Regions from separate parts of the Homo sapiens genome. Here region 2 is linked to region 1. The links come from fine-mapping of genetic effects on gene expression. A gene starts in region 1. The other region holds a variant in brackets. All regions are shown on one strand. Distances are from middle to middle.

Region 1 (5,481 bases):
ATGGTCTCGATCTCCTGACCTTGTGATCTGCCTGCTTCGGCCTCCCAAAGTGCTGGGATTATAGGTGTGAGCCACGGCGCCCAGCCCAATAATTCCACCAGAGGACAGGTCTGTGGGAGTGGGGCCCTTTATCGATTTGTTTATGGTTTTATCCCCAGTGCCTGGAGTACAGGAAGATTAAAAAATTTATTTCACTTTGCTGAGAAGAGGTGGAGCCAGGATTCAAATGCTGGTCTATTTGACTCCAAAGTTCACAGCTGGGCCACAGCACACCCAGGGGAAAAAGTCAAGTGCATTTGGGGATAAAGAAAGGTTGGTGACAAAACTGGAACAGGGATTAGAGTATTTTCCCCAAATCCCCAGTCTTTTCTTTCCCATTCTGCTAGCTGATTCAGCCAGGGGAGGGGAGATGTCAATTTCTCCCTCCCAGAAGGCTTTGCAGAGCTGCTGAAGTGCTTTCTTGTAGGCTGAGAGGCGGCCCCCCATCCGGCCCCATATTATCATTCCATCTTGACCTCAGAGGAAAGAAAGGGAAACCAGCTCTGCTGAGCACCCTTTCCACTCCCTCACCCCCAGGCCGTTATCTTGCTGAATCTGCACTATCTATCATGAGAGAAGTATATTTTGAGCCTGATCTTACAAAAGAGGAAACAGCTCAGAGACCTTAGGTAACTAGCCCTAAGTCACACAGCTAGTAAGTGGACGGGTTGAAATTTAACTTGGAGACTTGAACCCCAAATTCATCTTTTTTCTGTTACACCACACCTATCTCTGAAACTTACTGGCTGTCTCCTCAAAGGACATCCCTCTCCAAAGGGCTGGCTCCAGCTGGGAAACCGGCCTAAGGGTGCCCTGGGTCAGAGGGCCGACCTGTGGTTTTGGGGGCAACTCCTCCTGGCATCCGAGGCTCTTTAAAACAATCTGCAGCCACACTGTCTCCCAGCTCCGTCTCCCACAGGGCTGTTTGCCCTCTTCTCGCTCCCTCGGGCCTCTTCATGCTTATTTTGTGTTCCAAGACTTTGTCAGCATGCCCCACTTCCTCCCCCCCAACCCCAAGAGTGCCTCTTCCCTCTGTCCACCCAAGCCTGACCCTTGCTTCAGGGTCTAGTCCCTAGAAAGTCCCCCACCTTTACCTCCTCCCTACGCTGGAGTCTCTGGTCTCGCCCTCATCACTGTATCCCCATTCTGTTCCCCGGTCTCACCCTCATCACTGCATCCCCATTCTGTTCCCCCGCCACCCTGCACTCTCCCACCCCTGTCATGCCTGAGCACGCTGTCCTCTCCTGTGGCTCAGAGCAGGTCATCTCCCTGCTTTTCGTTAACAGTGATGTAACAGCCCTTGCTTAACGGAGGGCTCCTCACGTGCCAGCTACTGCATACTAAGCACTTTAAACGTATTAACTCATTTCCTCCCCTCCCCACAAAAACTTAAGAAGTCGGTGCCATTATATATCACCTATTTTACCAAATGGGGAAACTAAAGCACAGAGAGGTTAAGTAACTTGCCCAAGGTCACAGAGCTGCTGACAACTTCTTTATTGCCTCCAGGCTGAACATAAACTCCAAGAAAGTCCCATGAGGCTCTTTGGATCTCTTTTGCCCCTGTTGTTTGCAGGAACCCATCTCCCACCACTCTCCCCCACCCACACTGCAAGCGGCAGCCGCCTGAGCTATATTTAGATCCCAGAAGCCACCAAGCTCCCTCCGCACTCCCCGCCCTTGTGCATGCTGTTCCCTCTGCCTGGTCCCGGCTCTGTGAGGTGTGAGGTCTCCCCGTTAGCCCTAGTTTTCTTTCTGCCTCCTGGGAACCGTGTCCACCACCTCTCCACTTTGATCAATTATTTCCTTGCCGTTGTCTGTCGGCCTGTCAGCCTACCCCCACCCGACCGAGAACGCCTTGACGGTAGTGAAATGGTCTTGCCAATAGACTCCAGAGCAGGCTCCGCCACGATGTCAGCGCCAGGAAATGTTGGTGAATGAATGAATGAAGGCTTTCTGCTGCGAATCAGGCCCACTCTCCACAAACAGACCTGAGGAGAGGGGCCCAGGCCCGGCCCCCAGCGCTTCTGCAGCGGGAAAGCTGCGTCCAGAGAAGGCTGGGAGGTTGCTCCCAGGCCGGCTGAGGAGAGACCCTCGGAGCCTTCAACGCAGCCAGGCGGCAAGTGGGGGCAGGGCGTGGGCGCGGACACACCCCCCGCAGTGCCCCCGGCGCCCGGCAGGGGGCGCCGCCCCGCCGGCCCACGCCCCGCCGCGCGCCGGGCAGGCCCCCTCGCGCAGGCGCGCTGCCGCGGGCGGAGGATCCGGGCCGCGCTTCCTCTCGCCAGGCCTGCGAGCTTCCTCCCAGCGGAGCCCTGGGCGAGCCGAGGTTGGCCGCCGCCGCCGCCGAGCCCGCTGCCGCCCTCCCGCTCCTGCCCCACCCGCGCCTTGCCCGGGGGCTTCTGCCGGGGTGGGGTCCGAGCCGGGCGACCGCCCGGCTGCGCCGCCGTCGGGGCCGTAACCCGGCCCGCCGTCCCTCCCGCCCCAGCCAGCCTCTGGCCGCCGGAGCCCGCGGGGCGTGGAGCGCGAGGAGCCCCGCGGCCCCGATCGAGCGTCCGGGGCGGCCCCCGGCAGCCAGCGCGACGTTCCAAAATCGAACCTCAGTGGCGGCGCTCGGAAGCGGAACTCTGCCGGGGCCGCGCCGGCTACATTGTTTCCTCCCCCCGACTCCCTCCCGCCCCCTTCCCCCGCCTTTCTTCCCTCCGCGACCCGGGCCGTGCGTCCGTCCCCCTGCCTCTGCCTGGCGGTCCCTCCTCCCCTCTCCTTGCACCCATACCTCTTTGTACCGCACCCCCTGGGGACCCCTGCGCCCCTCCCCTCCCCCCTGACCGCATGGACCGTCCCGCAGGCCGCTGATGCCGCCCGCGGCGAGGTGGCCCGGACCGCAGTGCCCCAAGAGAGGTGAGTGCCTGGCCGTCCCGGAGTGTCCCCTGGAGGGAAGAGGGTGGAGGTCGCGCGTCTAGTCTCTGTTGCTGCCACTGTCGCGTCCACTCCCATTCCCCTCTTCTCCCACTTCTCCCTTCTCTCCTTTACTCCCTTGCACGGGTTCGAATTCTCCCAGGAGCCACTGTCAGAACCCAAATTGGAAGGGAGTGCATGAGGGAGGTACTGCCCTGCAGCTCCACGGACTCGTCTTCTCGGGTCATCCCGAGTCCCCCCCTCTGTGGAGCTCAGAGTAGGAGGTGGCTGGAGTCTGGAGGAAGAGGATCCGTATGGGCCAGGTCCCTAGAGAGAGTGCTGGACTCCCCTGCCCTTCCCTGTACAGGGCCTCCCCGCAGGTGCCCTGGCTTGCTTGGTTCTGACCCCTCCCTCATTACCCCACCATGACCCTGCGGGCTGCAAGCAAGCCCAGGGCCCAGCCACCTCGGGTGAGCAGTTAGAAGCCCAGGTCCTAGGACTGAGCCTGTCACCCTTGGCCTCTCAGAAGACCAGGCCTAAGCCAAGGGATCTTTGGGTGGGAAACTGGGCAGGCCTTCTGCCCGGGGGGAGGTAACGGAGCATTAGCACCATGCCCCCACCTTCTGGCACCCTGGGCAGCCCATTCTCCTAGGCTCTTTGTGGCCCAGACCAGGTGTCAGGAAGGGGTGTGTCCAGCCAGCAGATTTTTTGGAGCTTAACTACCAGTTCACTTCCCCGCCCATTTTGTACACCCGGGAACCGAGGCTCAAAGGGAGAAGTTGCTACCCCAGGCCTCTAGTGGAGTTAGGCTGGCTGTCCTTTCATCCCCAGCTATACAGGGCTGGATGGCTGTGGGTGGAAGGAAACCAGGCAGGCACCTTCACCCACTGGGGACACAGGCCCCCAGCCCGGCCCCAGAGGGACCTTGTTGGTTGAGCACGTGCTTCCCTGCAGAGGGCTGGAGGGAGTGAAAGGGCTTCCGGCTCCAGCTGTGGCTGGGTCAGCTAGCAGGAGATGTGGGGAATGTGTGGTGTATGGCCATCTGTGTGGTGTGGCAGGAAGGTCCGGTCCTGGCCCCGGCTCTGAGTTGAAACAACCTGGTGGTCAGTCCTGACCCAGCACTCGCCACACCTATGGCCCAGCTGGCACAGGAGCAGCCAAGTTCAGGATATAAATGGGGTCACATGGGAACCGTGGAAGCTCTGTCTCCACTGGCAGCAGGCTACAGACTGGGGACATGGGAGCATTGTGAGAGTGGGGACACCCAGGGGGCCTGTTTCAAGCTCCTAGTACCCTGGCGGTTCCAGTGTCTTTCTTGGTTGTGGCCACAGCAGGAACAGGGCAAGGACAGCAGGGGTGAGGTTGAGGCCTGGCAGGATCCTCTGGCCCAGGAGAGCAGGCATTGCCCTGGTGGGTGCTGAGCAGTGTCTGGGCTCCCTTGGAGCTGCTGGCAGTTTTGTCCTGCTGGGTCCCTGCTCACGATTTAGGGTTTTTTTGTTTTTTCACTTTTTTTTCTGGCTGTCCTGACATGCACAGTGGAGGGGACCCAGATGTCCTGGGCCTGTGAGACTCCCCTCACATGGCCCCACACCCAGCCCTAACTTCCTTTCCAGCCTGAGGGACTGGGGCTGGAGCCTGACATGGTTAGCTCCCTCCCACCCCAGTCAGCCTTTTTAATTTTTATTTTATTTTATTTTATTTTTTTACCAACTGTGAGCTGTGAAGGTGTGATCCAGGGTCCCAGGGCCTTTGAAGAAAGGAGTCTGGCTTCTGGCTGGCACGTGTGCAGGGATGTGCTTTTCATTGGTGAGCTTGGTGCCCTCCACCCTCTCAGAAGCAGCTGCTCTTCTCTCTGCATTGGGTCAGGGGCAAGGAAAAAGCAGAAAATGTTCCCATTCACCACCGCAGGGGGGCCAGACCCCAAAAGGCTGAGCCACACAGAGTGGCCCTCGGCAAGGGTTGGAAATTTCGGGGACAGAATGCAGCTTCCTCCAAACAAGTATAGGTAGGGGTTGAGACCCAGGATCCACAGTGTGACATGGCTGCCCCCCAAAGGGGGCAGACCCACCTGGGTGCGGTTCTGGGCTCCATCTTTTGAAGGATTTTAAAACCTTGACAGGTCATCTTCAAAGAGCCAGGGATGTTGACTGAGTCTGGGAAAGAGAAAGTAGGGACAGATTCTCATATGTCTGAGGGACTGTCCCAAATGAGAAAGGCATCCCATGGCAGAAATTGTCCCAGACACGTGGGCCAGAGCTAGGGAGCAGGTGGGTCCCAGGGAAGTGAATCTGAGCTCATTATAGGGAAACCATGAATGTACTCATTTTCTTGATTTAGAAAATAACAAAACAGCGCTACAGGAAATTTAGAAAATGAAACAAAAATCACCCACTATTTCTTCAGCAGGCAGTGACTGTGTTAGCATTTTGGAGTTCACTGCCAGTCTTTTCCCCATCCTTTTCCTTCATTGTCGTTGTCACTGGAGTGTGTGTGCCGTGACACCTTTTTTCATTTAATACTGCGTCTGTGGGCATTTTCTCATGGTGC
Region 2 (5,257 bases), 130 kb after region 1:
AGCCCAGCACAGAGTCATCTCACTTGGCGTTCAACCAAACTTCTCCAATGCAGCAAAATGGCAAACTAAACAATGTTACTGCAAAATGTGACTATAGACTAATAGGCTCTGCTGCTAAGGACAAGCTCTCTGGCATCCAGTTAAACAAACAGCCAGGAAAAACTGAAGTGATAGTTAGCAAAACTTAGGAGAGAATGACTAGGCTTAAGCCATTTTCCCAAGCACAACCAAAAAAATGATTATAACAAATAGAACATAATCTGCTAACCTTTCATTCTTGTTATATCCTTGTGAGGTGGCTCCCATTTTCAGATAAGGAAACAAAAGGACAGAAGTGTAGGCAACATATACACAGTCATATGACTGTTATACAGTAGACTGGGATTTATACCCAAGTCTGAATCCAAACCCCATTTTCTCATCTTACTGCTACATTATGCTGCCTTCCATCAGCTGGTAGGTGTATGTAATAAAAAGACATGAGGACAAACTGACATCATGTCCCTCCTGAGGGGATACAATTGGAATTTCACATAGTATTTTTGCCAAAAATGTTTAGCTGGATTTGAATAATTAGGAAACAGACACAGGCAGATTACAGGACATTCTACAACTGGCCTGGACTCTTCAGAAATATGAACTGTATGTATTTGATGCTAAACTTATTATTTTTTTTTTTTTATTTTGAGACGGAGTTTCACTCTTGTTGCCCAGGCTGGAGTGCAATGGCCAATCTTGGCTCACTGCAACCTCCATCTTCCAGGTTCAAGCGATTCTCCTGCCTCAGCCTCCTGAATAGCTGGGATTACAGGCATGAGCCACTACGCCCAGCTAATTTCTGTAGTTTTAATAGAGACAGGGTGTCTCAGTGTTGGTCAGCCTGGTCTCGAACTTCTGACCTCAGGTGATCCACCCGCCTCGGCCTCCCAAAGTGCCAGGGTTATAGGCGTGACCCACTGCGCCTAGCCTGATGCTAAACTTCTTGAAATAGAACAGAATTGTGTTTATGTAGGAGGCAAAAGTCCTTTTTCTCAGATTTTTGCTGAAGTATTCAGGGGTGAAGTGACGTGTGTAGATATATAACATATAAACAAATGTGACAAACTATTAATTGCTTTGAAATTTATTTTCTTTTTTTTTTTTTTTTTTGAGACGGAGTCTGGCTCTGTCGCCCAGGCTGGAGTGCAGTGGTGCCATCTTGGCTCACTGCAAGCTCCGCCTCCCGGGTTCATGCCATTCTCCTGCCTCAGCCTCCCGAGTAGCTGGGACTACCGGTGCCCGCCACCTCGCCTGGCTAATTTTTTGTATTTTTAGTAGAGATGGGGTTTCACCGTGTTAGCCAGGATGGTCTTGATCTCCTGACTTCGTGATCCACCCACCTCGGCTTCCCAAAGTGCTGGGATTACAGGCGTGAGCCACCGCACCCGGCCTGCTTTGAAACTTAATTAAAACAAACTGTAGGAAAGAAAAAGGCTAGAGACCCCATCCTGTTAGGGTAGAAGCCCTGTCCATCCAAGTCAAGCTGTGGAAGGATCCTCATATTTACCATCTACTTCTTTTGTTTGTTTGAGACAGAGTCTTGATCTGTCGCCAGGCTGGAATGCAGTGGCACGATCTCGGCTCTCTGCAACCTACGCCTCCCAGGTTCAAACAGTTCTCCTGCCTCAGCCTCCTGAGTGGCTGGGACTACAGACGTGCACCACCATGCCCAGCTAATTTTTGTAGAGACGGGGTTTCACCATGTTGGGAAGGCTGGTCTTGAACTCCTAACCTCATGATCCGTCCGCTTCAGCCTCCCAAAGTGCTGGGATTAGAGGCGTGAGCCACTGCACCCAACCCATCTACTTCTTTAGGTAGAGCTAGGATCCATCAAGCTAAAAGATGTACCTACTTTTTTTTTTTTTTGAGATGGAGTTTCATTCTTGTTACCCAGGCTGGAGTGCAATGGCATGATCTCGGCTCACCGCAACCTCCGCCTCCCAGGTTCAAGCGATTCTTCTGCCTTAGCCTCCTGCTGGGATTACAGGCGCTCGCCACCATGCCCAGTAAATTTTTTGTATTTTTAGTAGAGATAGCGTTTCACTGTGTTGGCC[A/G]GCTGGTCTCAAACTTCTGACCTCAGGTGATCCACTCACCTCAGCCTCCCCAAGTGCTGGGATTACAGGCGTGAGCCACCGCGCCTGGCCAAGATGTACCTACTTTTTCCAGCACAACAAAGAAGTTGATTCAATTTGCCTAATGGGTGTGTGTGTGAAGAAAGTTTGATGAGACAAATTCACCAGTAGATTGAATTTATCTAGTCACTTTTGCCTTCTAGTAACATGCCTTGTGATTTTTGTAAGTTTGCTTCTTGTGAAAATTATTTCTATTATTTTAGAGTAAAGGTGGGCAAACTTTCTGTAAACAGGCAAATAGTACTCTCTGGTCCAACTACTCACTATGTCATTTTAATGCAAAAGCAGCTATAGATAATGCACAGTGTGAATGTACCTAATGCCACTGTACTGTAAACTCAAAAATGGTCAAGATGAGGCCAGGTGCAGTGGCTCATGCCTGTAATCCCAGCACTTCGGGAGGCCCAGGTGGGCGGATCACGAGGTCAGGAGATTGAGACCATCCTGGCTAACACGGTGAAACCCCGTCTCTACTAATATAAAAAATTAGCCGGGCGTGGTGGCTGATGCCTGTGGTCCCAGCTACTCGGGAGGCTGAGGCAGGAGAATGGCGTGAACCTGGGAGGCAGAGGTTGCAGTAAACCGAGATGGCGCCACTGCACTCCAGCCTGGGCGACAGAGCGAGACTCCATCTCAAAAAAAAAAAAAAAAAAAAAAAAGGTCAAGATGGTAAATTTTATGTATGATCTTACCATAATTTACTAAAAGGCAAAAAAATAAGCCACAGATAATATGTAAATGAATGAGGGCGTGTGACTGTGTTCCAATAAAACCTTATTTATGGACACCATATTTGAATTTATTATTTTTTGAGACAGAGTCTTGCTCTGTCGCCCAGGCTGGAGTGCAGTGGCATGATCTCGGCTCACTGCAACCTCCGCCTCCCAGGTTCATGCCATTCTCCTGCCTCAGCCTCCGGAGTAGTGGGGACCACAGGTGCCCGCCACCACGCCCGGCTAATTTTTTGTATTTTTAGTAGAGACGGGGTTTCACCATGTTAGCCAGGATGGTCTTGATCTCCTACCTTGTGATCCACCCACCTTGGCCTCCCAAAGTGCTGGGATTACAGGTGTGAGCCACCATGCCCGGCCCATATTCTGAATTTCATACAGTTTTTATATATTATGAAAAATTTTTTTTTTTTTGAGTCAGAGTCTCGCTCTGTCGCCCAGCCTGGAGTACAGCAGCATGATCTCGGCTCACTGCAACCTCCACATCTTGGGTTCAAACGATTCTTCTGCCTCAGCTTCCCGTGTAGCTGGGACTATAGGTGCGTGCCACCATGCCCAGCTAATTTTTATATTTTTAGTAGAGACATGGTTTCACCATATTGGCCAGGCTGGTCTCGAACTCCTGACCTTGTAATCCACCCGCCTCAGCCTCCCAAAGTGCTGGGATTACAGGTGTGAGCCACCGCGCCTGGCCGAAATATTTTTCATTGATTTTTCAACCATTTAAAAACATACCAGGCCGGGCACGGTGGCTCACGCCTATAATCCCAGCACTTTGGGAGGCCGAGGCAGGTGGATCGTTTGAGTCCAGGAGTTTGAGACCATCCTGGCTAACACGGTGAAACCCCGTCTCTACTAAAAATACAAAAAATAAGCCAGGCGTGGTGGCGGGCACCTGTAGTCCCAGCTACTCGGGAGGCTGAGGCAGGAGAATGGCATGAACCTGGGAGGCAGAGCTTGCAGTGAGCCGAGATCATGCCACTGTACTCTAGCCTGGGCGACAGAGCAAAACTCTGTCTCAAAAGAAAAACAAAACACAAAAAACCCATACCAGCCTGGGCAACGTGGTCTACAAAAAAATACAAAAATTAGCTGGGTGTGGTAGCATGCATCTGTAGTACCAGCTCCTCAGAGGCTGAGATAGGAGGATTGCTTGAGCCCAGGAGGCAGAGGTTGCAGTGAGCTGATACCACACCACTGTACTCCAGCCTGGGTGACAGAGCAAGACCCTGTCTCGAAAAAAAAAAAAAAAAGTAAAAATTCCTAGAGCACCCCAGGTGCAGTAGCTCATGCTTGTAATCCCAGCACTTTGGAGGGTGAGGTGGGCGGATCACTTCAGGCTAGGAGTTCAAGACCAGTCCAGCCAACATGGTGAAACCCCATCTCTGCTAAAGCTACAATAAATTAGCCAGGCGTGGTGGCACATGCCTGTGATCCCAGCTACTCAGGAGGCTAAGGAAGGAGAATCGCTTGAACCTGGGAGGCAGAGGTTGCAGTGAGCCGAGATTGTGCCACTGGACTCCAGCCTGGGCAACAGAGCAAGACTCCGTCTTAGAAAAACAAACAAACAAACAAAAAACTTACCAGAGTACCCGTTTCCTTCTAAGGGTATACATGAGTGAATCAGATAAAATAAAATGTTGAAATCTCAACCTTACCTAAGATACAAAGGAGGCCAGCTGTGGTGGCTCACGCCTGTAATCCTAGCACTCTGGGAAGCCAAGACAGGCAGAGAGCTTGAACTCAGGAATTTGACACCAGCCTGGGCAACATGAGACCAAAACCACAAAAATTAGCCATGTGTGGAGGTGCACGCCTGTGGTCCCAGCTACTCTGGAGGCTGAGACGGAAGGATTGTTGGAGCCCGGGAAGTCGAGGCTACAGTGAGCCATGATCACATCACTGCACTCCAGCCTGTGTCAGAGCAAGACAGTCTCAAAACAAAACAAAAACACATTAAAAAAAAAAAAAAAAGCAAAGGCAACAAGAATCACTTTCCATCTACTAGTTCTATCCAGCTACAAATAAATCTTCTGCTTGTAAAAGAAAAGCCAATGCCTCAACCCTCACCATCTTTCAAATCACTCTCATTGCCTAAGATCACTCCTTCGCCTCCTGCAGTTTGGCCTCAACCGCCCACAAAAACATGGCCAAGAAATTAAAATTTCTTGAGCATCTGGCTGGGCGCGGTGGCTCACGCCTGTAATCCCAACACTTTGGGAGGCTGAGGCAGGCAGATCACCTGAGAGGTCAGGAGTTCGAGACCAGCCTGGCCAACATGGTGAAACCCCATCTCTACTAAAATTACAAAAATTAGCAGGGCATGGTGGTGCATGCCTGTAATCCCAGCTACTT

Alleles and levels. Alleles are on the strand shown, and positions count from the first base shown. SD is a standard deviation of normalised expression in the study named.
In carriers of allele G in region 2, the expression in CD4 T cells of the gene that starts at base 2,297 in region 1 tends to be lower than with A alone (small effect, 0.40 SD a copy in CEDAR).

What was found. PIP is the estimated chance that this variant, and not a neighbour inherited with it, causes the effect.
Region 2: its variant is the best candidate, but not a certain one, in a credible set for the expression of CSK in CD4 T cells (CEDAR, PIP 0.58).

What each region holds. Positions count from the first base shown.
Region 1 is chr15:74,779,784-74,785,264 of GRCh38, forward strand. CSK (C-terminal Src kinase) reads left to right here and starts at 2,297. Exons shown (of 13, transcript NM_004383.3): 1 at 2,297-2,937. RefSeq lists enhancers at 1,747-1,866, 1,887-1,956, 2,999-3,574, 4,457-4,586, 4,597-4,656 and silencers at 2,177-2,396, 2,507-2,766.
Region 2 is chr15:74,913,214-74,918,470 of GRCh38, forward strand. No RefSeq gene overlaps it. Among named protein-coding and RNA genes, the nearest start is that of FAM219B, 9.0 kb to the left of the region's middle. The variant A/G (reference allele first, on the strand shown) is at 2,094.